Regions from separate parts of the Homo sapiens genome. Here regions 1 and 3 are each linked to region 2. Evidence: fine-mapped expression QTL. A gene starts in region 2. Each other region holds a variant in brackets. All regions are shown on one strand. Distances are between the middles of the regions.

The links. PIP is the estimated chance that this variant, and not a neighbour inherited with it, causes the effect.
Region 1: its variant is fine-mapped to the expression of PGR in tibial artery (GTEx, PIP above 0.99).
Region 3: its variant is fine-mapped to the expression of PGR in esophagus muscle (GTEx, PIP above 0.99).

The regions. Positions count from the first base shown.
Region 1 is chr11:101,094,071-101,102,070 of GRCh38, reverse strand. All of the region lies in intron 2 of PGR (progesterone receptor), which reads left to right. Among named protein-coding and RNA genes, the nearest start is that of PGR, 32 kb to the left of the region's middle. The variant T/C (reference allele first, on the strand shown) is at 3,257.
Region 2 is chr11:101,125,055-101,135,843 of GRCh38, reverse strand. PGR (progesterone receptor) reads left to right here and starts at 6,031. Exons shown (of 8, transcript NM_000926.4): 1 at 6,031-8,410; 2 at 9,686-9,837. The coding sequence starts at 6,774. It also overlaps PGR-AS1.
Region 3 is chr11:101,068,099-101,076,098 of GRCh38, reverse strand. All of the region lies in intron 3 of PGR (progesterone receptor), which reads left to right. Among named protein-coding and RNA genes, the nearest start is that of PGR, 58 kb to the left of the region's middle. The variant A/C (reference allele first, on the strand shown) is at 4,038.

The DNA of each region.
Region 1 (8,000 bases), 32 kb after region 2:
TCTAGGCCAGCCGTTTTGTAGAAAGTTCCATAATCTGGCTTTGTCTGATTTTTCCCCCACATAATTATATGCCAGTTAAACGTTTTGACAAGAATCCTACACAGGCCAACGGTTCTCAGACACTGATCTCATGACCCCCTTATGTGCTTAAAAATTGCTACAAGCCCAAAGAGCTTCTGTATACGTGAATTCTCTCTCTCAGTATTTACTGTGTTAGAAATTAAAACTCATAATGTTTTAAAACTTTTTATTAGCTCATTTAAAAAACAGCAAACCCATTAGATACTAATTTTTCAAACCAAAAAATTTAATGACAAGAATGACATTGTTTTACATTTTTATAAGTCATTTTAATGTCTATCTTAATAGAAGACAGCTGGATTCTCATATCTGGATCTACAGTCAATCTGTTCCAATATGTTGTTTTGGTGGAAGCATGGGAAGGAAATGTGGCCTCACACAGATATGTAGTTGGAAAATGGAGGAGTATTTTAATTGTCTTTTCAGACTTGACAAGTGGTGGCCATTTCATTAGGAATTGCAAAAGGATGATTCTCTATTTCTATTATCCCTTCTGATTTTATCAGCTATAAATATTTTTAATAGTTCTCTCTCTCTTCCAAGAGGCAATCTGGTAATCTTAAAATACACTTAATAATGGAAAGCCTAACAGATACTTATTATTTACTTTTAATTTTCAGTTTTCAAAGTTGTTAAGTTTGTGCCCTAGTAATCTCCAGTGGTTTCCAGTGAGTTCCTCTTGTTTCTTTCATTCTTTCTCTTCTTACATATCATTATGTACTCATGTTTTTTAAAATATATATTCAATGTGTTTTAATTACTTGAACCAGTTCTTTTTGATGTTCAAGTGGTTTTAATTTTGGTTGGTGTGAATTATCAGTGGTCAATGAAACACAATTTTATTAGCCCTCAGTAAAAGCAAATCATCTGTCACAGCAAAGCATCCCAGGCTCAACTTGCACATTTCCTGCCCTAGTCCTGGATCAGTCATTTCCCCAAGGAGCTCTGGTTCGTTTTAGATGAAAATTATATTACATGTGAAAATCTGAATTCCTGCTGGAGTTGTCTTTACTTTTGGGCATTTTCAGTGAAGAGACCTAGAAAATACCTCTTTTTGAAAAAGTAAGGGGATCATGAGTTTATACCATGATTTCTCAACCTCACACTATTGACCTATTGGGCCACATAATTGTTGCAGGGGGGGATGTCCTGTGCATTATGGGATGTTATTAGCCTTTTTGGCCTCTCTGCAATAATACCTACCCTCTAGTTGCATAAACCAAAATTGTCTCCAGATATTGTGAAATGTCCTGGTGAGGAAGGGAGCAAAATTGCCTCTAGTTGAGAATTACTGGTTTATGTTTGTATTTCTAGCAAAATCAAAATAATTACTAGTTGTTTTATCTGTATGTATTGTGTGTGTGTGTGTGTGTGTGTGTGTGTGGATTCAAAATACTAGTATCAGCATTATTACCTCTAACAACAAAACCTGCTTTGTAGACTAGTTCTTCCATCTCCTGCATAAAATCTTAGGCCAGTCCCAAAGATTTTAATCAGAAGAACAATCTCATTCCACTAACCGTATTAGTCTGTTCTCATGCTGCTGTGAAGAAATACCTAAGACTGGGTAATTTATAAAAGAAAGAGGTTTAATTGACTCACAGTTCCACATGGCTGGGAAGGCCTCAGGAAACTTACAATCATGGCCCAAGGGGAAGTAAACATGTCCTTCTTTACAAGGCAGCAGGAGAGAGAATGAGTGCCAGTAGGGGAAATGCTAGACTCTTATAAAACCATCAGATCTCATGAGAATTCACTGATTGATCACACTGCTCATGATGATCACGAGAAGAGCATGGGGGGAAACCACCCCCATGATTCAATTACCTCCCACTGAGTTCCTCCCACAACATGGGGGGATTATGGGATTACAATTCAAGATGAGGTTTGGGTGGTGACACAAAGCCAAACCATATCAGTAATCAAAATGCCCAGGGAAGCATTATGCCAAATTTACAAATCCTCTTCTAAGTTTAGATTTCTTCTTTGCCCCAATTCAGCACTCACTGCTTTGAGCTTGAAGCCTAAAGGGAAGAACAAATAAGATCTGCTTCTTCTCTGTTTATGCTGCCTACACTCACCCAATGACAGCTGATTTTGACCCTTCCAGGGCCAACGTGTGGGAAGAGAAGTTAGAGAGCACAGTTTTACACAACAAGTAGGAATTTTAGTGTCACTGGGGTTATCTGTGTTTGGTGGGTGATTACAGGCTGCTCTTCCTCTAGTGGGATACTTTGGTGAGATTCATGGAGATACTTTACTGAGAGCCTCTAACTGTAATCCTGTAATGCTGTAATGCAGTAGACACCTCTCTTCTCTCTGGACATGACCGTGACCCTCTGCTTCTGGACTTCCGCTGACTGACCCTACACAGATTCTGTTGGATCACAATACTCTCTAGGTTGTCCTCTTAGCTGGAGCCAGTTTTTAAAAGAAAGAAACTTTTATTGATAAATATTTTCAGAAAAGCACTCAAAGATGTAGAGCTTATCAGTAGGTAAATGAAACGATGTTATTATCACCCAGACCAAAAAATTTAAAGATCATTAGGTTCCCAGAAGCTCCATTTTGCCCCTTCCAATCATTCCCCAAAAGTAACCGCCATCCCAATTTCTAACATGATAGATTGGTTTGAACTATTTTAGAACTTTATATTAATGGAATCAGATAGTATTTTTCTATGTCTGCTTATTTTACACAACATTATACTTATGTAGTTCATCCACATTTTGCATGGAGCTAGACATTTATTCTCATTGCTGTATAATAATGCATTGAATAAATAAAACCATTTGTTTACACATTATGCTGTAGGTGATCATTTGGGTTGTTTTCAGATTGAGGCTATTATGAACACTGCTGCTATAAATATTCTTGTACAAATCTTTTATTTTTTGCATGTGGACACACCTGTCCCTACAGATAAGCTTTTCATTTGCCTCTCCAAGGACCCTGGCAATTTCACTGGTCCTGTACCAGTCTTTGTTCCTTGGCCCAGGTTCCTATACCATGTGATAGTGAAAATTCACCTCCCATTAAAGGCCAATATTTTATTTTGTTTATGTTGTTTTTGGCATAAATGATTTTTGTCCTCACCCTGAATTTTGGACAGATTCCTGGCTGCCTGGCATTTTCTGTGTAGTGTTTTCTAGCCCTGTTTTCATTGCTAAGGCAG[T/C]CTTTTAAGGTTCTACATTTTTATGCATATAGTTCAGCCCTGCCACTCTCTTCCATTGGGACTGAAGTAATATATCCCATCCTCTCATGGGCTTTAAACCCCATTTCTTATCTTTTAGGCATTTCTTATATCTGTATCTGAAACTTTTTTGGATCACTGCAGAGTCCAGTTAAGTTTGTTCCTCCAGCTTTCATTTCTTTTTTCTTTTCTGGCTTATAGAGATTTACCTACCTTTTTTTCCAGACTGAAATTAAGCAACATGCTTCTATTATATTTTATCCAGTATTTCTGTGTTTGTGGTAGAAAGATTGCCCTCATATGGACCAGCTCATGTTGCTTCAAGCCCGTGACTTGTGGGTCATACCATACTGACTTTCACTATTTCATTCCTTAAACTACTGAACATATATTATTTCCTGCCATTTGACTATGTATTTTCCCCTTCTTTTCAAAAATGCCATGAAAAATTGTGAACTCTCTCAGACCTAAGTGAACTATGTTCACTTGTGCTCATATTGAGAAGCAACACAAACAATATAGGTCTCTTATTTTACAGGTAAGTCCCTTTCTTGTTTCTAATAAAGATATTTTATTTCCTAATAAAGATATTTTATTTCCTTTAAAGTGGAATTTTGTCATCTAAAATTTTTGTAAGTCACTAGGCAAATAAAATGATCTAATCACATTTTGATAGTGCTTTTATTTTCACAGAGTATTTTTTATTAAGAGTAACACTTGGGGCTGGGCACGGTGGCTCACGCCTGTAATCTCAGCACTTCAGGAGGCCGAGGCAGGAGGATCACAAGGTCAGGAGATCGAGACCATCCTGGCTAACACGGTGAAACCCCATCTCTACTAAAAATACAAAAAATTAGCCAGACGTGGTGGTGGGCGCCTGTAGTTCCAGCTACTCGGGAGGCTGAGGCAGGGGAATGGCATGAATCCAAGAGGCAGAGCTTGCAGTGAGCTGAGATGGCTCCACCGCACTCCAGCCTGAGCGACGGAGCGAGACTCCGCTCAAAAAAAAAAAAAAAAAGAGTAACACTTGGAAATAATCTTGTTAGACTTCACATTTAATTATGGTCTATTACTATAAAAAGGTGAGAAATTACTGAATAAAAAGCATTCTGTAAGAAAAAAAGTTAAAAGGTGGTAAAAAATCAGAAGCAAGTGACTATTTACTATATATGACAATAAGTGACATATGTCTTATACTGTTGAGTATAACTATATTTACAAATATAAGCGAAACAATAGGTATAATTGTATATACACCTATCTAAAAAATATTTATCAAGCTGTATTTTACACAAGAGTTAAAAGTATCAAACTGAGTAGTTCCTACTCTTATAGAACCTAGTAGCTATAGACACAAAGTATACAATAGGAATACATTGAATGTGCAGTTGGTACACAGAAGAAATGTCTAAAGCCTTTATGAGAGCAGTCAGGTAAGACCAGATGAGGGGAGCAGTTAAGCCAAGGCTTGAAAGACGAGTGAGATTTTGTTAAGTTGATAAATTGGAAGGAAGGGAGGAAAGTCATAGAGGCATGAGAGAGTTTGGGGGTAATCCAAGGATGTTAGTACTCTGGAGCATAAAGAACATGGGAAAGAGTATGTGATTAGAAAGAAAAGACATAACAGTTTGAACTCACCCCCTGCTTTCCCCACCCTAAAATAGATCAGTTTTGCAAGGAGAAAGAAGCATAGTGCTCTATTAAGCTCCCCAGGTTTCAACAGGGGCAGATGATGCATATATTAAGGGAGAGAGCTAGATAGTGGCTCCTAGTGGGGTGAACTCCCCTATTTATCATTATGCCATGTAACCTGTTTGTGGTGGCTTATAGCTTATAAGTGTTCCTAAATGTCTTATAACTCCTGGTGGTGATAATGTAGGTAAACAGCAAAGATGGCAGCAAATGGAATGCTCTGAGTGGTTTAATATAGTGACGTGTTTTACACTTGTTGTAGAATCACAATGTTATGTTGGACTGAGGAGAAGAAATAATACGCAATTTGAGCCATCAACCTACGGTTTATGAGTGAGTGAGTGGATCTAGACAGGGATGTGTTTCTCAAAACCAGAATATAAACTGTGGGCTGTTGTCTGAAGAAAATGGTAGCAACTGATGTTATGTTAGATTTTCATCTTTTTCTAGATTTCCAGGAAAATGTTGTGACAGGGCTAATGCACTTGTGCCTGACCTTTCTTCACCTGCATATACAGCCAGGTACCTGAAGTAGCGAGTGGCTCCCACTGCATTCATTGCATTCTTGGTGGCTCTGAGTCCTGGCCATGCATTATGGTTCAGAGGCAATGCCTGGGCCCCATGCCAAATTCCCTTAGTCGGCTCTAGTTGGAACTGGCTGGCTACAACATTTCTTTAAGCCAAAACATTGCTTGAGAAGATAAACCTTTAACTGTACTCCCCATATTTTGTTTGCATGATAATGCATCTACTTTGCAGTTTTGATGGCTCATCACTTAATGTTAAAGATGATGAAAAGTTAGAGTGAATTGAGCTTCCAGATTTCTTTAAGCCATTCCAGCCTGTCACAGGCAGTCTACAATGATATGAGTCGTGCCAACCCCTCAAGGTCGTGACTTCATGCCAGTGCCCTTAATTATTAAAAATTATCCTTCCAACTCAAACTTTAAATATTGGACATCTAAGTCATTTTTTCTTCCAAACTTATAAGAATTGCATTCTGTTTGGTAACTATAATTTCCTTATTTATACTCATGTTTAAATTTATACTTATGTTTAAATTTATTTGGTACTTATCATCAGTCTCTTCATACCAGACTTCCTACCTCATACATTGTCTGCTATAACGTATCTGTTGTTGACTGGATTACATCTTTTGGAAGAGCATACTGGGGTCTTATTTCCCAATTTCATGCAAGTTTGAGAATATCTTTAAGTTGCCTTTAAAACTGAATAACTTGACTAGATATAGACTTCTTGGACCACATCTAGAAAAAATCTAACTATATTTGAGATTTAGATGTGTGATAATCATAATTATAATAGACATTTGTTAAGTACTTGCTATGTGCCAGACTATTCTAAGCTCTTACATGAGCTTGTGTATTCCTTAGATCCAATCCAAGGTACTAATGTTATCTTCATTTTAATTGCCAAATGTCATCTAGCTACTAAGTGATGAGATTGACATTCACACTTAAACAGTAACTTTCTATACTACCTCTCAAGATAATTAACCTAAAATGTTTTAACTGTGTGACCTTGAGCATGTTATTTAACTTCTAGATGCCTCAGTTAACTCTGTATAAAATGAGAATATTAATACCTCCAAAGGTTGCTTTGATGATGAAATGAGTTAATATATGTCAATAGCTCATAACAATGCCTGGCACATAGTAAGTGCTTAATAATTGTCTGTTGTTCTTTTATTATTTTTATTTGTGGATAGTAAGTTGCAGATCTGAGCTTTGAACAAGCAGTCTGGCCTCTGTAACTTTGCTCTTCGGTACTACAATGTAGTGTCAGCAATTAAGATGGCATTTTAATTTAGTGGGGGAAAACATGGATTAGTCAGTAAATAGTGTTGGGATATAGTAGATACTCAATACTTGTTGAATGAATGAGAGTTTTATAAAAGTATAAATACATTAACTTAAATATTAACAAATAGATATTAAATACCATTTAGATTTGTATAGACAGTTTGGAAATACTTTAGTCTGTTCCACTGCAATAAAAAAATACCTTAGACTGGGTAGTTTATAAATACAGAAATATTTTCTGATGGTTCTAAAGGCTGAGAAGTCCAAGATCAAGGTGGCACAGATTCCATGTCTGGTAAAAGCTTGCTGTCTTCTTCCAAGATGGCGCCCCTTGCTGCATCCTCACATGGCAGAAAGGATAAAAAGGACCAAATTCACTCCCTCAAGCCCTTTTAAAAGGGTACTGATTCCATCCATGGAGGCAGAGACCCCACCTCTTAATATTGTCACATTGGGGATTAAGTTTCAATATGAATTTTGAAGGGGACACAAACATTCAAACCATAGCAAGAAGGAAGCAAAAATGAGAATAGATGCATGATTATCAAATTGTAGGTTATTTTCTGTTTTGAATTTCCTTACGTTCTTATATAATTTCTCTAATAATACAATTCATGATATAATTTGTACAGATAACCACTTAGTTGTATTTTGTATATATTGAGTTTGAGGTACCTAGAAATATGACTGGAAGGTCAGAGCTCATATTGAGATTTTGGGACCATCAGAAGATAATGAGACAGACTACCCACAAAGTGTGTGCAGTGGCACACCACATATAAGGAATAAGCAAAGTAAGAGGAGTTGACAAAGGGAATTTAAAAGGAAGTGCTGGAAAGACAGGTCAAGAGTCAGAAAAGAGAGGCCCCAAAATATGAATCAATGGGACAGGTGGGGAAAGAAATTACCTGAAGCAAATGATTCAGGTCAGGAAAGCATTCACAGCATTTAGGAATGAAAAAATATTTGATGATGTTAAGCCATTTTATAAGAATAGTGAATATACAAGTCAAATTACCACATAGGAATAAAGGAAGTTAGGTAGAAACAGCAAATGTAGATGATGTTTTCGACAACTTTGAGGACCAAAAAAAGGGGAATGTATTCAGGGAGAATCTAGAGTGAGCTAGGGTTCCTTTTTTTGGTGCTGGAACTTTTTTGGATGGAAAAATAATGAGAGAGCAGGACATCACTGGACTGGAGAGACTAAA
Region 2 (10,789 bases):
AGAAGCCAGTTCTCTCCAAATTCATCTATAATTTCAGCTCAATCCTAATCAACATTGCAGAAGGGTTTTTTTTGCAGATATTAACAAACTGTTTCTAACATTTACATGAAAATGCAAATGACCTAGACAAAACAATTTTGAAAAAGAAGAATAAAGTTGGAGCACTAGTACATTAAGTATCCGTGGGGGGAAGGGGGGCTCCACCCAGGAGGGAAGATGGTCTAGCCTTTAACTCTGTCCTACTGGGAAGGGAGCTAGGTGGCTGAGGGCTCTTCCATTTTGGCATTTCCATTTCTGGGGAGGGGGTTCAAAGTCACCAACACGCTGAGAGCTGTAGTTCAGAAACAGAAGTGGGGGGCCACTGTTACCACTCTGCTTAGAAACTTTATGGGTTGCCTCTCATGCAATCTGTAGCTTCAGAGCACACCTTCGATCCTGTCTCTTCCCTCAAACAGCTGTGGGCTGCCCCTCCTCACCCCCAGGGCTGGAAGGTTAGAGGAAGAATGCTATCATTTATACAGAGGGATTTAAAAAATAACAGCTTAAAAAATTACAGCTACATCAATCAAGAAAATGTATTGACATAAAAACTGTCCAATAATACAGTTAAATGGAATGGAGGGTACAGAAACAGATCTCCACATATTTGAATAACTAATTCTCAACAAAGGTGCAAAGGCAATTAGTGAAGGGGTATTCTTTTCAGCAAATGGCGCTGAAACAACTGGATATCCACATGCAAAAAAGTGAATTTTGATCTAGACCTTATACCATATTAAAAAGTAACTTTAAAATGTATCACAGATATAAATGTAAAACCTAAAACTATAAAGCCAAAAGAAAACATGACAGAAAACATTTATGACCTTGGGTTTAGCAAGGAATATTCAGTTATGACACCAAAAGCATAATTCATAAAAATGTAAATAAAGAGGCTTTATCAATATTAAAAACATCTGCTCTTCAAAAGATCCTGTTAAGAGAACTTAAAGACAAGCCACAGGCTAGAAAAAACTACTTTCAAATCCCATATATGACAATGGACTTCTAACAGAATTCATAAAGAACTCTGAAAATTCAACAATAACAAAACAATTCAATTTTTTAAAAAAAAGCAAACAAAAGATTTGAACAGACACAGACACACAGAAGAGGAATATATAAATATCACAAATAAGCACATGAAAACATGATCAACATCATTAGTCATTAATGAAATGCACATTGAAACCATAATGAGATACCACTATCTACTTGTTAGAATTGGTAAAATTAAAAATGCTGACTATATCAGTTGTTGTCCAGCTTTTGGAAGAATTAGAACTCTAATATACTGGGTGGAAATGTAAAATGATACAATCACTTTGGAAAATTGTTTGACGGTTAAATGTACATGTATTGTCTTGGTCCATTTGGGCTGCTATAACAAAATACCATGAACTAGGTAGCTTATAAACAGCAGAAACTTATTTCTCACAGTTCAGGAGGCTGGGAGTCCACAATAAAGGTGACAGATTCAATGTCTGGTGAAGACCTGCTTTGTAGCTCCTAGATGGCAACTTCTTATTGTGTACTCACATGGTAGAAGGGGCAGGGCAGTGCTCCATGACCTAATCACTCCCCAACACCTCCTCCTACTAAGACTATCACATTGGTGATTGGGTTTTGACACACAGATTTGGGGAGAACACAAACACTCATATCACAGCACCTACTAATTTATCCAGCCATTTCACTGCTAGGTATTTACCCAGAAAAAATGAAAACACATGTTCATACAAAGACTTGTACAACATTTTCATAGTAGCTCTATTTATAATACCAAAAAAATTGGAAACAACTCAGATATTTATCCACAGTTAAATGGATAAACAAACTATAGTATATAAATAAAAAGAATAAAAAGAATTAACTATTGATACATACTATAATTTAGCTGAATCTCAAAATAATTATGCTGAGTGAGAGAAACCAAATGAAAAAAAGATACACTATATTATATACAATTCTAAGAAATAAAACCTAATTTATTTGGCACCCAGATCTTCATTTCTATACCAGTTTCAAATAAAAAGTCTCAAACTTCCTTGGATAAATGGCTGATTCTACGACTGGGGCAGGAAATATACAAGATGAGTCTGATGAGTCTGTAGCATCTTGTAATACCAGAAAGTAGGAAAGTCCACACATACACACACATACACACAATACAGAGAGTGGGTCAAGGAGCACAAGAGTCAACTGAAAAAGCCCCCAGTGCCAAAAACTGGAAAAATTTGAGCAACAAAGTATTCATGAATCCATACAAAGAAAAGACTGAATAAAGAAGTAAATGGGGGAGAAGAAGCAAATCTTCCTCACAGAATTCCAAATAAATTATGTAGATACTCCACTCCAAAGGAGGGCTAGCATAACTCCCTACTCCCCCACACTTCCTTAAGTGACTCATAATGATTTCCTTCCAAAGAGTACAGAGTATGCAAAGAGGGAAAAAAGAGTAACTATGCAATGGAGAAACCTGACAAACACTACTTCAGCCAGGTGATGGAGAACAACATTAACAGTCATAAGTCATGTTGACAATATGTACCCTTCATATGATGTAATAAATACAGTACATTACCTCTTTGATTTCCACCCCGCCAAAACCCAAAACCCTAGTCTACTCATGAGGATACATCAAATCCCAATAGAAGGGCATCTTGCAATATACCTCACCAGTACTCCTAAGGACTGTCAAGGTCATCAAATACAAGGAAAATCTGAGAAACTCTCACAGCCAAGAGGAGCACAAGACATCATAACAATTAAATGTGGTGTCCTGGATGGAATCCTGGAAAGGAAAAAGGACATTAAGTGAAAATGAAGAAAATCTAAATAAACTATGAATATTAGTTAATAACAATTTATCAGTATTAGTTCATTAATTGTAACAAATGTACCCTATTAATTTAAAATGCTAACAGAGAAAATTGTACAAATGATATATGAGCATTCTCTATATTATCTGCTCAATTTTTCTGTAAATCCAAAATCGTTTCCCAAAAGTAAAATCTATTAATAAAACATCTAAAGCAAACAGACCTAAAAGGCATATGCAAATGTATAATTTAATGTTTAATAAATCAGATATAAATATTTTTAAAAACCTAATATTTGGTGACAGAAAGCAGATTAGTGGCTTGCCAGAAAGTGGTGATTAGTACTAGGGGAAGGGGATGGGACAGAACAGTATGAAGGGATTTAAAAAATGGCATGAGGAAACTTTTGGAGGCAAAGGGTATGTTTATCATTTTAGTTTCACAGGTCTAACAACAAATTATACAATTTAAATATATGCAGCTTATTATATGACAACTATATCTTGATAAAGTGGTTTTTTTCCCCAAACTATAGAAAAAATACTTCCACATTTAAATCCTCTTCTCCAAAAACAGTCTTCAGGAATATTTGAAGTTAGCCCCATCACACCTGAATTTAATCAGTGAATTTTGTTCATTCAAAGATTCATACATTTGGGAAGTTCCTGTGCCAAAAATGCTAATCACCCAGCATCAAAATTTATGGAATAATGGTGATTTAGGACATGCTGGACATCTTTATTGTTGTTTTCCCACTTCAAGATTTTCAATCTTTTGGAAACAACCTCCCCAGACATTCTGACAAGGGAATTATTATAACCAACCAAAATCAAGCCAAATATAGTTTGTCAGATTTAAAATGAGGCCAAGTGCCAATTTTACAGCAGCGACCGGAAAATCAAATTATATGGCATCTGACATTTAAAATCACACTCCTAAGAAGGCTGTCATTTGATGTCTTGGGTTTGGGTTACAGTACTTAACTTTATAATACTGGGTAACCTTGTGCCTCAGTTTTCCCAACTATGAAATTGGGATAACAGTACCTATTTTGTGAGACTGTTGAAGGATTACAGTTAACACAGGTAAAAGGCTTACAAGACTACCTGGCAATGCTGTCCTGATTTTACAAATTCTATACACTGTGTGGCATTAGCCATCAGGAAAATATAAATAAATCAGTGAGATACCACTTCACACACTTGGGGGGCTATAACAAAAAAGACAGATAAAAAATGTTGTCAAAGATGTGAAGAAACTAGGACCCTTATTCACTGCTGGTGGAAATGTAAGAAGTACAATCATTTGAACCATAGTCTGGCAGTTACTCCAAAGACCACACCTAGAGTTGCCATATGAACCAGCAATTCCACTCCTATGCATATATCCAGGAGAAAGGAAAATATACGCTGCACAAAAACTTGTACATGAATGTTCATTAGCAGGATTTTTCATGGTAGCCAAAAGGTGTAAACAACCCAAATGTCCAACAACTGATAGAGATGGATAAATAAAATGTGGTTTATCCATACAATGAAATATTATTTGTCAATAAAAAGGAGTGAAGGAGTGAAGTACTGATTCATGTGGAACATGGATGAACCTTGATCCAAAATAGCCAAATCACAGGTACAAAAAGCATATTAGTGGCTGCTGGGAGATTTAGGCGGAAATGTGGAATAACTGCTAGTGGGTATTGAGATTTTAGAGTCATACTCATGTTACAAAATTAATAGTGCTGATGGTTGCACAACTCTGAGTACATGAAAAATCAATGAACTGATACTTTGAGTGAGCTGTATGATACTGGAATTACACCTCAATAAAGCATGGTAACTGTTTTAAGATAGGCTGGAAAGAGAAAGCCTGAAAACAACAATAATGATATTAATAAATTAGTTTACTTCTCTAGTCTCATATACTTCTGTGCCCACACTTGCTCCTGTTCTATTCATAATGGTCCCCTTGCAGTTGCCATATTATATCCTGCCATTTGATGCCCGGTGAACATTCTATACCTGCTTCCCAGAATTCTCTTTACCTTTCCTCTATCTGCCTAACTTCCACATATCTAAAATTAATCAGAGTAAACTATTTACTAGAACAACCAACTCCAAATCCTAGTAACCTAACATGATAAAGGTTTGTTTCTCACTCATATAGCCCCTCCCCAGATGATCGAGGGGTCCAGGCTCCTTACCTCTAGTGGCTCCCCCACCTTCTGGAGTCTTCTGCATTCTTTATACATGGTTGAGATAAACTATGAGTCATTAGCACAGCTAGACCTTGAGGTCCTACAAGAAAATTTGCAAATCATTCACTCTGTTTTGAACAAGGTATATTTAAGATGATGTTAAAATACCCAATGGTCTTGGGTCAAATACAGTTTATGACTGTGTATCTAAAATATATATTGCAATATTCTTCCCTTTTTCTACTGACTTCATGAATTTAGCGGGGATCCATTTTATAAGCTCAAAGATAATTACTTTTCAGACTAAGAATATTTAGGGTAAAAAGTACTGTTCAACATCTCTACTGAGGATGTTATGATGTAGCACACTGTATAAGCTGGAGCTAAAGGAAACTTTCCTTAAAGTGCTATTTACTAAAAATTGGAACACATTCCTTAAGACAAATCGAAGTGTGGCACACAACATCCAAACTTCCATCATAGATACAGAGGTGTTACCATCTCCCACTCCCAAATTTCTTTGTCACGCTGAGGATACTCAAGAGGAGCAGGACATGTTGGTCGCAGCAGGAGAAACTTGAAAGCATTCACTTTTATGGAACTCATAAGGGAGAGAATCTCTTATTTAGTATCGTCCTTGATACATTTATTATTTTAAAAGATAATGTAGCCAAATGTCTTCCTCTGTGTTAAATCTTTACAAAACTGAAATCTTAAAATGGTGACAAAAATTCTACTTCTGATAGAATCTATTCATTTTTCCAATTAGATAGGGCATAATTCTTAATTTGCAAAACAAAACGTAATATGCTTATGAGGTTCCATCCCAAAGAACCTGCTATTGAGAGTAGCATTCAGAATAACGGGTGGAAATGCCAACTCCAGAGTTTCAGATCCTACCGGTAATTGGGGTAGGGAGGGGCTTTGGGCGGGGCCTCCCTAGAGGAGGAGGCGTTGTTAGAAAGCTGTCTGGCCAGTCCACAGCTGTCACTAATCGGGGTAAGCCTTGTTGTATTTGTGCGTGTGGGTGGCATTCTCAATGAGAACTAGCTTCACTTGTCATTTGAGTGAAATCTACAACCCGAGGCGGCTAGTGCTCCCGCACTACTGGGATCTGAGATCTTCGGAGATGACTGTCGCCCGCAGTACGGAGCCAGCAGAAGTCCGACCCTTCCTGGGAATGGGCTGTACCGAGAGGTCCGACTAGCCCCAGGGTTTTAGTGAGGGGGCAGTGGAACTCAGCGAGGGACTGAGAGCTTCACAGCATGCACGAGTTTGATGCCAGAGAAAAAGTCGGGAGATAAAGGAGCCGCGTGTCACTAAATTGCCGTCGCAGCCGCAGCCACTCAAGTGCCGGACTTGTGAGTACTCTGCGTCTCCAGTCCTCGGACAGAAGTTGGAGAACTCTCTTGGAGAACTCCCCGAGTTAGGAGACGAGATCTCCTAACAATTACTACTTTTTCTTGCGCTCCCCACTTGCCGCTCGCTGGGACAAACGACAGCCACAGTTCCCCTGACGACAGGATGGAGGCCAAGGGCAGGAGCTGACCAGCGCCGCCCTCCCCCGCCCCCGACCCAGGAGGTGGAGATCCCTCCGGTCCAGCCACATTCAACACCCACTTTCTCCTCCCTCTGCCCCTATATTCCCGAAACCCCCTCCTCCTTCCCTTTTCCCTCCTCCTGGAGACGGGGGAGGAGAAAAGGGGAGTCCAGTCGTCATGACTGAGCTGAAGGCAAAGGGTCCCCGGGCTCCCCACGTGGCGGGCGGCCCGCCCTCCCCCGAGGTCGGATCCCCACTGCTGTGTCGCCCAGCCGCAGGTCCGTTCCCGGGGAGCCAGACCTCGGACACCTTGCCTGAAGTTTCGGCCATACCTATCTCCCTGGACGGGCTACTCTTCCCTCGGCCCTGCCAGGGACAGGACCCCTCCGACGAAAAGACGCAGGACCAGCAGTCGCTGTCGGACGTGGAGGGCGCATATTCCAGAGCTGAAGCTACAAGGGGTGCTGGAGGCAGCAGTTCTAGTCCCCCAGAAAAGGACAGCGGACTGCTGGACAGTGTCTTGGACACTCTGTTGGCGCCCTCAGGTCCCGGGCAGAGCCAACCCAGCCCTCCCGCCTGCGAGGTCACCAGCTCTTGGTGCCTGTTTGGCCCCGAACTTCCCGAAGATCCACCGGCTGCCCCCGCCACCCAGCGGGTGTTGTCCCCGCTCATGAGCCGGTCCGGGTGCAAGGTTGGAGACAGCTCCGGGACGGCAGCTGCCCATAAAGTGCTGCCCCGGGGCCTGTCACCAGCCCGGCAGCTGCTGCTCCCGGCCTCTGAGAGCCCTCACTGGTCCGGGGCCCCAGTGAAGCCGTCTCCGCAGGCCGCTGCGGTGGAGGTTGAGGAGGAGGATGGCTCTGAGTCCGAGGAGTCTGCGGGTCCGCTTCTGAAGGGCAAACCTCGGGCTCTGGGTGGCGCGGCGGCTGGAGGAGGAGCCGCGGCTGTCCCGCCGGGGGCGGCAGCAGGAGGCGTCGCCCTGGTCCCCAAGGAAGATTCCCGCTTCTCAGCGCCCAGGGTCGCCCTGGTGGAGCAGGACGCGCCGATGGCGCCCGGGCGCTCCCCGCTGGCCACCACGGTGATGGATTTCATCCACGTGCCTATCCTGCCTCTCAATCACGCCTTATTGGCAGCCCGCACTCGGCAGCTGCTGGAAGACGAAAGTTACGACGGCGGGGCCGGGGCTGCCAGCGCCTTTGCCCCGCCGCGGAGTTCACCCTGTGCCTCGTCCACCCCGGTCGCTGTAGGCGACTTCCCCGACTGCGCGTACCCGCCCGACGCCGAGCCCAAGGACGACGCGTACCCTCTCTATAGCGACTTCCAGCCGCCCGCTCTAAAGATAAAGGAGGAGGAGGAAGGCGCGGAGGCCTCCGCGCGCTCCCCGCGTTCCTACCTTGTGGCCGGTGCCAACCCCGCAGCCTTCCCGGATTTCCCGTTGGGGCCACCGCCCCCGCTGCCGCCGCGAGCGACCCCATCCAGACCCGGGGAAGCGGCGGTGACGGCCGCACCCGCCAGTGCCTCAGTCTCGTCTGCGTCCTCCTCGGGGTCGACCCTGGAGTGCATCCTGTACAAAGCGGAGGGCGCGCCGCCCCAGCAGGGCCCGTTCGCGCCGCCGCCCTGCAAGGCGCCGGGCGCGAGCGGCTGCCTGCTCCCGCGGGACGGCCTGCCCTCCACCTCCGCCTCTGCCGCCGCCGCCGGGGCGGCCCCCGCGCTCTACCCTGCACTCGGCCTCAACGGGCTCCCGCAGCTCGGCTACCAGGCCGCCGTGCTCAAGGAGGGCCTGCCGCAGGTCTACCCGCCCTATCTCAACTACCTGAGGTGAGGGCCCGGGACGGGGCACGCCCAGCGCGTCCGGGAGTAGCGGTTCCGTTGGCGGCGGCGGCCGCCAACCCTCAGCCCCAGCCCCAGCGCACCGCTGCGCTCCCCGGGGCGGCCGGAGAGGGTGGGCAGCGGGACACAGCACAGGGGCAGTTGCCTCCCTTCTTCTTCCCTCCTCTCCTCACTCTTGGGGACACGAAGGTGGGCGCAGAATATACTATTTTTGGGGCGTGCCTCCCTGAAAGCTGTTTTTTTGTTTGTTTTTTAACTTTCCGAATCTTCCAGATTCCGAAGCAGAACCAACCCCGATTTAAAACGTGCAGCGTCACACTAGGTCCGCTGTAGCCCAGTGGGGCAGAAAGTGCGCGGCGAGTTGGGGGCTTTATGAAATGCTTCTTTCTTAGAAGAAGGACGTTTACCAGGAGTGCTTGTCTTGGAGAGGAGTTAAGGCACCGTTCCCCCGGGAGGGGTGGGACTTGAGAGGTGGCCGGCCAGAACCGAAAGCAGCACCATCTTAGGGATTTGAACACTTCAGTGGCTCAGTTTTCTTAAGAATCTCAAGATTAAAATTAAGTTCACGTGGGAAATGTTTAAACTGTGGATTTAAACGCCTGTCACTGCATTGCACCGTTTTCTTATTATTGCTTGCTATTCACTACAATTTTTTTTATATACAGGTTTAAAAAACACTACTTTGCATACTGAAGTAATGGAATGTAAAAAAAGAATGCTCTGTTTGGAATCTTATGTTGTGAATAGGCAAAACAGTGTCAGTGTATTGGACAATACTTTAAAATGACAAACATATACTTGCTTAAGTAAGCAATGATTACAGGGTTGTGTTTTAAAAACTCAAAACCAAAACATTGCAAAGTACCATCGAACTTTTAAAGCCAAACCATATTTGTTTTGACCCAGCATACAGACAGGAAGGACATAACATTTCATTTGTCAAAGACTAAATTGTTTCTATATAAAGAGTTTTGTAGAAAGATTTCCTTTTAACCGACTTTAACTTTCTAGGACATAATATTATACACTAATTATTGTTCTTTTATATTGGTGCTACTGATGAATGGCTAATCATTTGCAAGTATGGTGAATCCAGTTACGGATAGTCTATTACCAAGTTTAGTTTGCATGTCTTTCAAGTGTATATATACAGTTCTGTTTTTAAAATCTCCTTTCACCCTGTTAATACTGGTTTAAGAAACCTTTAGTATTAGATAGTGGTGCACTTAAAAATAAATGGAGTACTTTGTTTTGCATTTCAAGGCCGGATTCAGAAGCCAGCCAGAGCCCACAATACAGCTTCGAGTCATTACCTCAGAAGATTTGTTTAATCTGTGGGGATGAAGCATCAGGCTGTCATTATGGTGTCCTTACCTGTGGGAGCTGTAAGGTCTTCTTTAAGAGGGCAATGGAAGGTAGGCTCCTTTCCCCTGATCCTTTATTATTGGTTTAATTGTAAATGGAGACCATCTAATATTGTATAGATTTCAATTATTCCTTGTTTCTTATAAGAAATGGTGATATTTCCATATAATTTAAAATATATGATGACATTTTAACAATATGTTTTTATTTATGATACTCAAAATGGAATGTGGTTGGGTACTATAATTGCATACTCTTTGACTAACACTTTCAGTATTAGACATAAGTCATAAAAATCTTGAGGACAGTGCTACTATTGTTCCTTAACTGCTTAGCTTTGAGGAAACAGCTTTGTTCTAATAGTACTTTTATATATCTATTATGTAGGTATATGTGTATGCAGTACTTTAAAATTTTGATTAAAAGAAAAATGGTAGTTGACACATATGTACATGTATGCGTATACATATTTGTACATACACGAACATATATCACAACATGTATATGATGCAGTTTTCTACATGATACTGTCTTTTGACTACATGAATATTTATGTAATATTTACAAAGAAGTAATTCTAAACAAATTTTTGAATTCTCTTTTTGTTCAGTATATTTTTGTAAGTGTATAAGAGGACAGGATTAAACAGTTTAAAATAAAAAACCTGGACATCACAGTAACATAATTTCTAAAGAAGTATTTTGCTTTAAGTAAAACTTTCATGTTTTTAAACTCATTGAACTTACATGCTTAATGATTTCAGATTTACTTGCATAGTGTTTCAGATTTTAACTTTCAAAGAAAATATTTTTGAATTTCTTTCTACCTAAAGTCTAAGCAGCCAAACATCTTTACATTTGAAGATAAAAATACATTGAAAGATTTCATATTTTAATACCAGCAATAAATGTATTCTATAACTATGTAAAATGAAGCTTAGGATTCCCTCTGGAGTGCTGAGATCACACCTAGACAAGGAACCAAGGATCTGAATGTTGGCTT
Region 3 (8,000 bases), 58 kb after region 2:
CTTTATCCAGTCTATCATTGATGGGCATTTGGGTTGGCTCCAAATCTTTACTATTGTGAATAGTGCTGCAGTAAACATACGTGTGCATGTGTCTTTATGGTACAATGATTTATAATCCTTTGGGTACATACCCAGTAACGGGATTGCTGGGTCAAATGGTATTTCTGGTTCTAGATCCTTGAGGAATCACCACACTGTCTTCTACAATGGTTGAACTAATTTACACTGCCACCAACAGCGTAAAAGCTTTCCTATTTCTCCACATCTTTTCCGGCATCTATTGTTTCCTGAGTTTTTAATGGTCATCATTCTAACTGGCATGAAATGGCATCTCATTGTGGTATTGATTTGCATTTCGACCAGTGATGATGAGCTTTTTTTTCATGTTTATTGCCCACATAAATGTCTTCTTTTGAGAAGTGTCTGTTCATATCCTTTGCCCACTTTTTGATGGGGTTGTTTTTTGTTTTTTTTTTTGTAAATTTGTTTAAATTCTTTGTAGCTTCTTGATAGTAGTCCTTTGTTAGATGGATAAATTGCAGAAATTTTCTCCCATTCTGTAGGTTGCCTGTTCACTCTGATGATAGTTTCTTTTGCTGTGCAGAAGGTCTTTAGTTTAATTAGATCCCATTTGTCAATTTTGTCTTTTGTTGCCATTGCTTTTGGTGTTTTAGTCATGAAGTCTTTGCCCATGCCTATGTCCTGAATGATATTGCCCAGGTTTTCCTCTAGGGTTTTTATGGTTTTCAGTCTTACATTTAAGTCTTTGATCTATCTTGAGTTAATTTTTGTATAAGGTGTAAGGAAGGGGTCCACTTTCAATTTTCTGTATATGGCTAGCCAGTTTCCCCAACACCATTTATTAAATAGGGAATCCTTTCCCCATTGCTTTTTTGGTCAGATTTGTCAAAGATCAGATGGTAGATGTGTGGCATTATTTCTGAGGCCTCTGTTCTGCTTCATTGGTCTATATATCTGTTTTGGTACCAGTACCATGCTGTTTTGGCTACTGTAGCCTTGTAGTATAGTTTGAAGTCAGCTAGCCTGATGCCTCCAGCTTTGTTCTTTTTGCTTAGGATTGTCTTGGTTATATGGGCTCTTTTTTGGTTCCATAGGAAATTTAAAGTAGTTTTTTCTAATTCTATGAAGAAAGTCAATGTTAGCTTGTTGGGGATAGCATTGAATCTATAAATTACTTTGGTCAGTATGGCCATTTTCATGATATTGATTCTTCTGATCCATGAGCATAGAGTGTTTTTCCATTTGTGTCCTCTCTGATTTCCTTGAGCGTTGATTTGTAGTTCTCCTTGAAGGGGTCCTTCACATTTCTCGTGACTTGTATTCCTAGCTATTTTACTCCTTTTGTAGCAATTGTGAATGGGAGTTCAGTCATGTTTGGGCTCTCTGTTTGTCTATTATTGGTGTATAGGAATGCCTGTGATTTTTGCACATTTATTTTGTATCCTGAGACTTCACTGAAGTTGCTTATCAGCTTAAGGAGATTTTGGGCTGAGATGATGGAGTTTTCTAAATATACAATCATGTCCTCTACAAAAAGACACAGTTTGACTTCCTCTCTTCCTATTTGAATACGCTTTATTTCTTTCTCTTGCCTGATTGCCCTGGCCAGAACTTCCACTACTATGTTTAATAGCAGTGGTGGGAAAGGACATCCCTGTCTTGTGCTGGTTTTCAAAGGGAATGCTTTCAGCTTTTGCCTATTCATTATGATATTCGCTGTGGGTTTGCCATAAATAGCTCTTATTATTTTGAGATACGGTCCATCAATACCTAGCTTATTGAGAGTTTTTAGCATGAAGGGGTGTTGAATTTTGTTAAAGGCCTTTTCTGCATCTATTGAGATAATCATGTGGTTTTTGTCATTGGTTCTGTTTATGTGATGGATTACGTTTATTAATGTGCGTATGTTGATCCAGGCTTTCATCTCAGGGATGAAACTGACCTGATCATGGTGGATAAGCTTTTTGATGTGCTGCTGGATTTGGATTGCCAGTATTTTATTGAGGATTTTTGCATCAATATTCATCAGGGATATTGGCCTGAAATTTTCTTTTTTGTTGTTTCTCTGCCGGGTTTTGGTGTCAGGATGATACCAAATAAAATGAGTTAGGGAGGATTCCCTCTTTTTCTATTGTTTGGAATAGTTTTAGAAAGAATGGTGCCAGCTCCTCCTTGTATCTCTGGTAGAATTCAGCTATGAATCTGTCTGGTCCTGGGGTTTTTTTGGTTGGTAGGCTATTAATTACTGCCTCAATTTCAGAACTTGTTATTGGTCTATTCAGGAATTCAACTTCTTCCTGGTTTCATCTTGGGAGGGTGTATGTGTCCAGGAATGTATGCATTTCTTCTAGATTTTCTAGTTTATTTTCATAGAGGTGTTTATAGTATTCTCTGATGGTAGTTTGTATTTCTGTGGGATCACTGGTGATATCCCCTTTATCATTTTTTATTGTGTCTACTTGATTCTTCTCTCCCTTCTTTATTAGTCTGGCTAGTGGTCTATCTACTTTGTTAATCTTTTCAAAAAACCAGCTCCTGGATTCATTGATTTTTTTTTTTTAAGGGTTTTTCATGTCTCTATCTCCTTCGGTTCTGCTCTGGTCTTAGTTATTTCTTGTCCTCTGCTAGCTTTTGAATTTGTTTGCTCTTGCTTCGCTAGTTCTTTTAATTGTGATATTAGCGTGTCAATTTTAGATCATTCCCACTTTCTCCTGTGGACATTTAGTGCTATAAATTTCCCTCTAAACAAACACTGCTTTAGCTGTGTCCCAGAGATTCTGGTATGTTGTGTCTTTGTTCTCATTGGTTTCAAATAACTTATTTATTTCTGCCTTAATTTCATTATTTATGCAGTAATCATTCAGGAGCAGGTTGTTCAGTTTCCATGTAGTTGTGCAGTTTTGAGTGAGTTTCTTAATCCTGAGTTCTAATTTGATTGCACTGTGGTCTGAGAAACTGTTTGTTATTATTTCCATTCTTTCACATTTGCTGAGGAGTGTTTTACTTCCAATTATGTGGTCAATTTTAGAATAAGTGCAATGTGGTGCTGAGAAGAAGGTATATTCTGTTGATTTGGGGTAGAGAGTTCTGTAGATGTCTCTTAGGTCCACTTGGTCCAGAGCCTGAGTTCAAGTCCTGGATATCCTTATTAATTTTCTGTCTTGTTGATCTGTCTAATATTGACAGTAGGGTGTTAAAAGTCTCCCCCATTAATGTGTGGGTGTCTAAGTCTCTTCATAGGCCTCTAAGAACTTGCTTTATGAATCTGAATGCTCCTGTATTGAGTACGTATTTTTAGGATAGTCAGCTCTTCTTGTTGCATTGATCCCTTTACCATTATGTAATGGCCTTCTTTGTCTTTTGATCTTTGTTGGTTTAAAGTCTGTTTTATCAGAGACTAGGATTGCAACCCCTGCCTTTTTTAGCTTTCCATTTGCTTGGTAAATATTCCTCCATCCCTTTATTTTGAGCATATTGTGTCTCTGCCTGTGAGATGGGTCTCCTGAATATAGCACACCAATGGGTCTTGACTCTTTATCCAGTTTGCTGGTCTGTGTCTTTTAATTGGGGCATTTAGCCCATTTACATTTAAGGGTAATAGTATTATGTGTGAATTTGATCCTGTCATTATGATGCTAGCTGGTTATTTTGCCCATTAGTTGATGCAGTTTCTTCCTAGCATCGATGGTCTTTACAATTTGGCATGTTTTTGCAGTGGCTGGTACCGGTTGTTCCTTTCCATGTTTAGTGCTTCCTTCAGGAGCTCTTGTAAGGCAGGCCTCGTGGTGACAAAATCTCTCAGCTTTTGCTTGTCTGTAAAGGAGTTTATTTCTCCTTTGCTTATGAAGCTTAGTTTGGCTGGATATGAAATTCTGGGTTGAAAATTCTTTTCTTTAGAAATGTTGAATATTGGCCTCCACTCTCTTCTGGCATGTAGGGTTTCAGCAGAGAGATCTGCTGTTAGTCTGATGGGCTTCCCTTTGTGGGTAACCCGACTTTCTCTTTGGCTGCCCTTA[A/C]CGTTTTTTCCTTCATTTCAATCTTGGTGAATCTGACAGTTATGTGTCTTGGGGTTGCTCTTCTCGAGGAGTATCTTTGTGGTGTTCTCTGTATTTCCTGAATTTGAATGTTGGCCTGTCTTGCTAGGTTGGGGAAGTTCTCCTGGATACTATCCCGAAGAGTGTTTTCCAACTTGGTTCCATTCTCCCCGTCACTTTCAGGTACACCAATCAAACGTAAGTTTGGTCTTTTCACATAGTCCCATATTTCTTGGAGGCTTTGTTTGTTCCTTTTCATTCTTTATTCTCTAATCTTGTATTCATGCTTTATTTCATTCAGTTGATCTTCAATCTCTGATATCCTTTCTTCTGCTTGATAAATTTGGCTGCTGATATTTGTGTATGCTTCACACAGTTCTTGTGCTGTGTTTTTCAGCTCCATCAGGTCATTTATGTTCTTCTCTAAAATGGTTATTCTAGGTAGCAATTCCTCTAACCTTTTTTCAAGGTTCTTAGCTTCCTTGCATTGGGTTAGAACATGCTCCATTAACTCAGAGGAGTTTGTCATTACCCGCCTCCTGAAGCCTACTTCTGTCAATTTGTCAAACTCATTCTCCGTCCAGTTTTATTCCCTTGCTGGTGAGGAGTTGTGATCTTTTGGAGGAGAAGAGGCATTCTGATTTTTGGAATTTTCAGCCTTTTTGCACTGGTTTTTCCTCATCTTCATGGATTTATCTACCTTTGGTCTTTGATGTTGGTGACCTTCAGATGGGGTTTTTGTGTGGACATCCTTTTTGTTGATGTTGATGCTATTCCTTTCTGTTTGTTAGTTTTCCTTCTAACAGTCAGGCCCCTCTGCTGCAGGTCTGCTGGAGTTTGCTGGAGGTCCACTCCAGACCCTGTTTGCCTGGGTATCACTAGCGGACTCTGCAGTACAGCAAAGATTGCTGCCTGTTCCTTCCTCTGGAATCTTCATCCCAGCAGGGCACCCACCAGATTGCCAGCCAGAGCTCTCCTGTGTGAGGTGTCTGTCGACCCCTGCTGGGAGGTATCTCCCAGTCAGGAGGCACAGGGGTCAGGGACCCACTTGAGGAGGCAGTTTGTCCTTTAGCAGAGCTTGAGCACTGCGCTGGGAGATCCGCTGGTCTCTTCAGAGCCAGCAGGCAGGAACGTTTAAGTCTGCTGAAGCTGCGCCCACAGCCACCCCTTCCCCCAGGTTCTCTGTCCCAGGGAGATGGGAGTTTTATGTATAAGCCCCTGACTGGGGCTGCTGCCTTTCTTTCAGAGATGCCCTGCCCAGAGAGGAGTCTAGAGAGGCAGTCTGGCTACAGCAGCTTTGCCATGCTGCAGTGGGCTCTGCCCAGTTTGAAGTTCCAGGTGGTTTTGCTTACACTGTGAGGGGAAAACTGCCTACTCAAGCCTCAGTAATGGTGGACGCCCCTCCCACCACCATGCTCCAGCGTCCCAGGTCGACTTCACACTGCTGTGCTGGCAGCGAGAATTTCAAGCCAGTGAATCTCAACTTACTGGGCTCTGTGGGGATGGTATCTGCTGAGCTAGATCACTTGGCTCCCTGGCTTCAGCCCCCCTTCCAGGGGAGTGAATGGTTCTGTCTCACTGGCATTCCAGGTGCCACTGGGGTATGAAAAAAAACTCCTGCAGCTAGTTCATTGTCTGCCCAAATGGCTGCCCAGTTTTGTGCTTGAAACCCAGGGCCCTGGTGATTTAGGCACCCAAGGGAATCTCCTGGTCTGTGGGTTGCAAAGACCATGGGGAAAGCATAGTATCTGGGCCGGAACACATTGTTCCTTACAGCACAGTCACTCACGGCTTCCCTTGGCTAAGGGAGGGAGTTTCCCCACTCTTTGTACTTCCCGGGTAAGGCAATGCCCCACCCTGCTTCAGCTCGCTCTCCATGGGCTGTAGCTACTGTCTAGCCAGTCCCAATGAGATGAGGTGGGTACCTCAGTTGAAAATGCAGAAATCACCCACCTTCTGTGTTGATCGCGTTGGGAGCTACAGACCGGAGCTATTCCTATTCAGCCATCTTGCCAGCCAGCAACCACTCTACTTTTTTTTTTTTTAATTTAAGTTCTGGGATACATGTACAGAATATGCAGGTTTGTTACATAGATATACATGTGCCATGGTGGTTTGCTGCACCCAACAATCCATCATCTACATTAGATGTTTCTACTAGTGCTATCCCTCCCCTAGCTCCCCACCCCTCAACAGGCCCTGGTGTGTGATGTTCCTCTCCCTGTGTCCATGTGTTCTCATTGTTCACCTCCCACTTATGAGAGAATATGCAGTGTTTGGTTTTCTGTTCTTGTGTTAATTTACTAAGAATGGTTTCCAGCTTCATCCATGTCCCTGCAAAAGACATGAACTCATCCCTTTTGATGGCTGCATAGTATTCCATGGTGTATATGTGCCACATTTTCTTTATCCAGTCTCTCACTGATGAGGATTTGGGTTGGCTCCAAGTCTTTGCTATTGTGAATACTGCTGCAGTAAACATACATGTGCATGTGTCTTATGGTACAATGATTTATAATCCTTTGGGTATATACCCAGTAATGGGATTACTGGGTCAAATGGCATTTCTGGTTCTAGATCTTTGAGGAATCATCACACTGTCTTCTACAGTGGTTGAACTAATTTACACTCCCACCAACAGTGTAAAAGCTTTCCTATTTCTCCACATCCTCTCCAGCATCTGTTGTTTCCTGACTTTTTAATGATCGCCATTCTAACTGGTGTGAGATGGTATCTCATTGTGGTTTTGATTTGCATTTCTCTCATGACCAGTGAAGATGAGCTTTTTTCCATGTTTTTTGGCCACATAAATGTCTTCTTTTGAGAAGTGTCTATTCATACCCTTCACCCACTTTTTGATGTTTTTTTTTTCTTGTAAATTTGTTTAAGTTCCCTGTAGACTCTGGATATTAGCCCTTTGTCAGATGGATAAATTGCAGAGATTTTCTCCCATTCTATAGGTTGCCTGTTCACTCCGATGATAGTTTCTTTTGCTGTGCAGAAGGTCTTTAGTTTAATTAGATCCCATTTGTCAATTTTGTCTTTTGTTGCCATTGCTTTTGGTGTTTTAGTCATGAAGTCTTTGCCCATGCCTATGTCCTGAATGGTATTGCCTAGGTTTTCTTCCAAGGTTTTTATGGTTTTAGGTCTTATGTTTAAGTCTTTAGTCCATCTTGAGTTAATTTTTGTATTAGGTGTAGGGAAGGGGTCCACTTTCAGTTTTCTGCATATGGCTAGCCAGTTTCCCCAACACCATTTATTAAATAGGGAATCCTTTCCCCATTGTTTTTTTTGGTCAGGTTTGTCAAAGATCAGATGGTTGTAGATTTGTGACGTTACTTCTGAGGCCTCTGTTCTGTTCTATTGTTCTATATATCTGTTTGGGTACCAGTACCATGCTGTTTTAGTTACTGTAGAGTTGAAGTATAGTTTGAAGTCAGGTAGCATGATACCTCCAGCTTTGTTCTTTTGACTTAGGATGTCTTGGCTATACAGGCTCTTTTTTGGTTCCATATGAAATTTAAAGTAATTTTTTTCTAATTTTGTGAAGAAAGTCAATGTTAGCTTGATGGAGCTATTATTGGATCTATAAATTACTTTGGTCACTATGGCCATTTTCAAAATATACATTCTTCCTATCTATGAATATGGAATGTTTTTCCATTTGTTTGTGCCCTGATTTCCTTGAGCAGTGTTTTGTAGTTCTCCTTGAAGAGGCCCTTCACATCCCTTGTAAGTTGTATTCCTGGGCATTTAATTCTCTTTGTAGCAATTGTGAATGGGAGTTCACTCATGATTTGGCTCTCTGTTTGTCTATTATTGGTGTATAGGAATGACTGTGATTTTTGCACATTGATTTTGTATCCTAAGAATAAGCCATACTTTTTAATATATTTTATTCATAAAAAAATGCACATAAAGCAAATGACATATAGAAACAATATG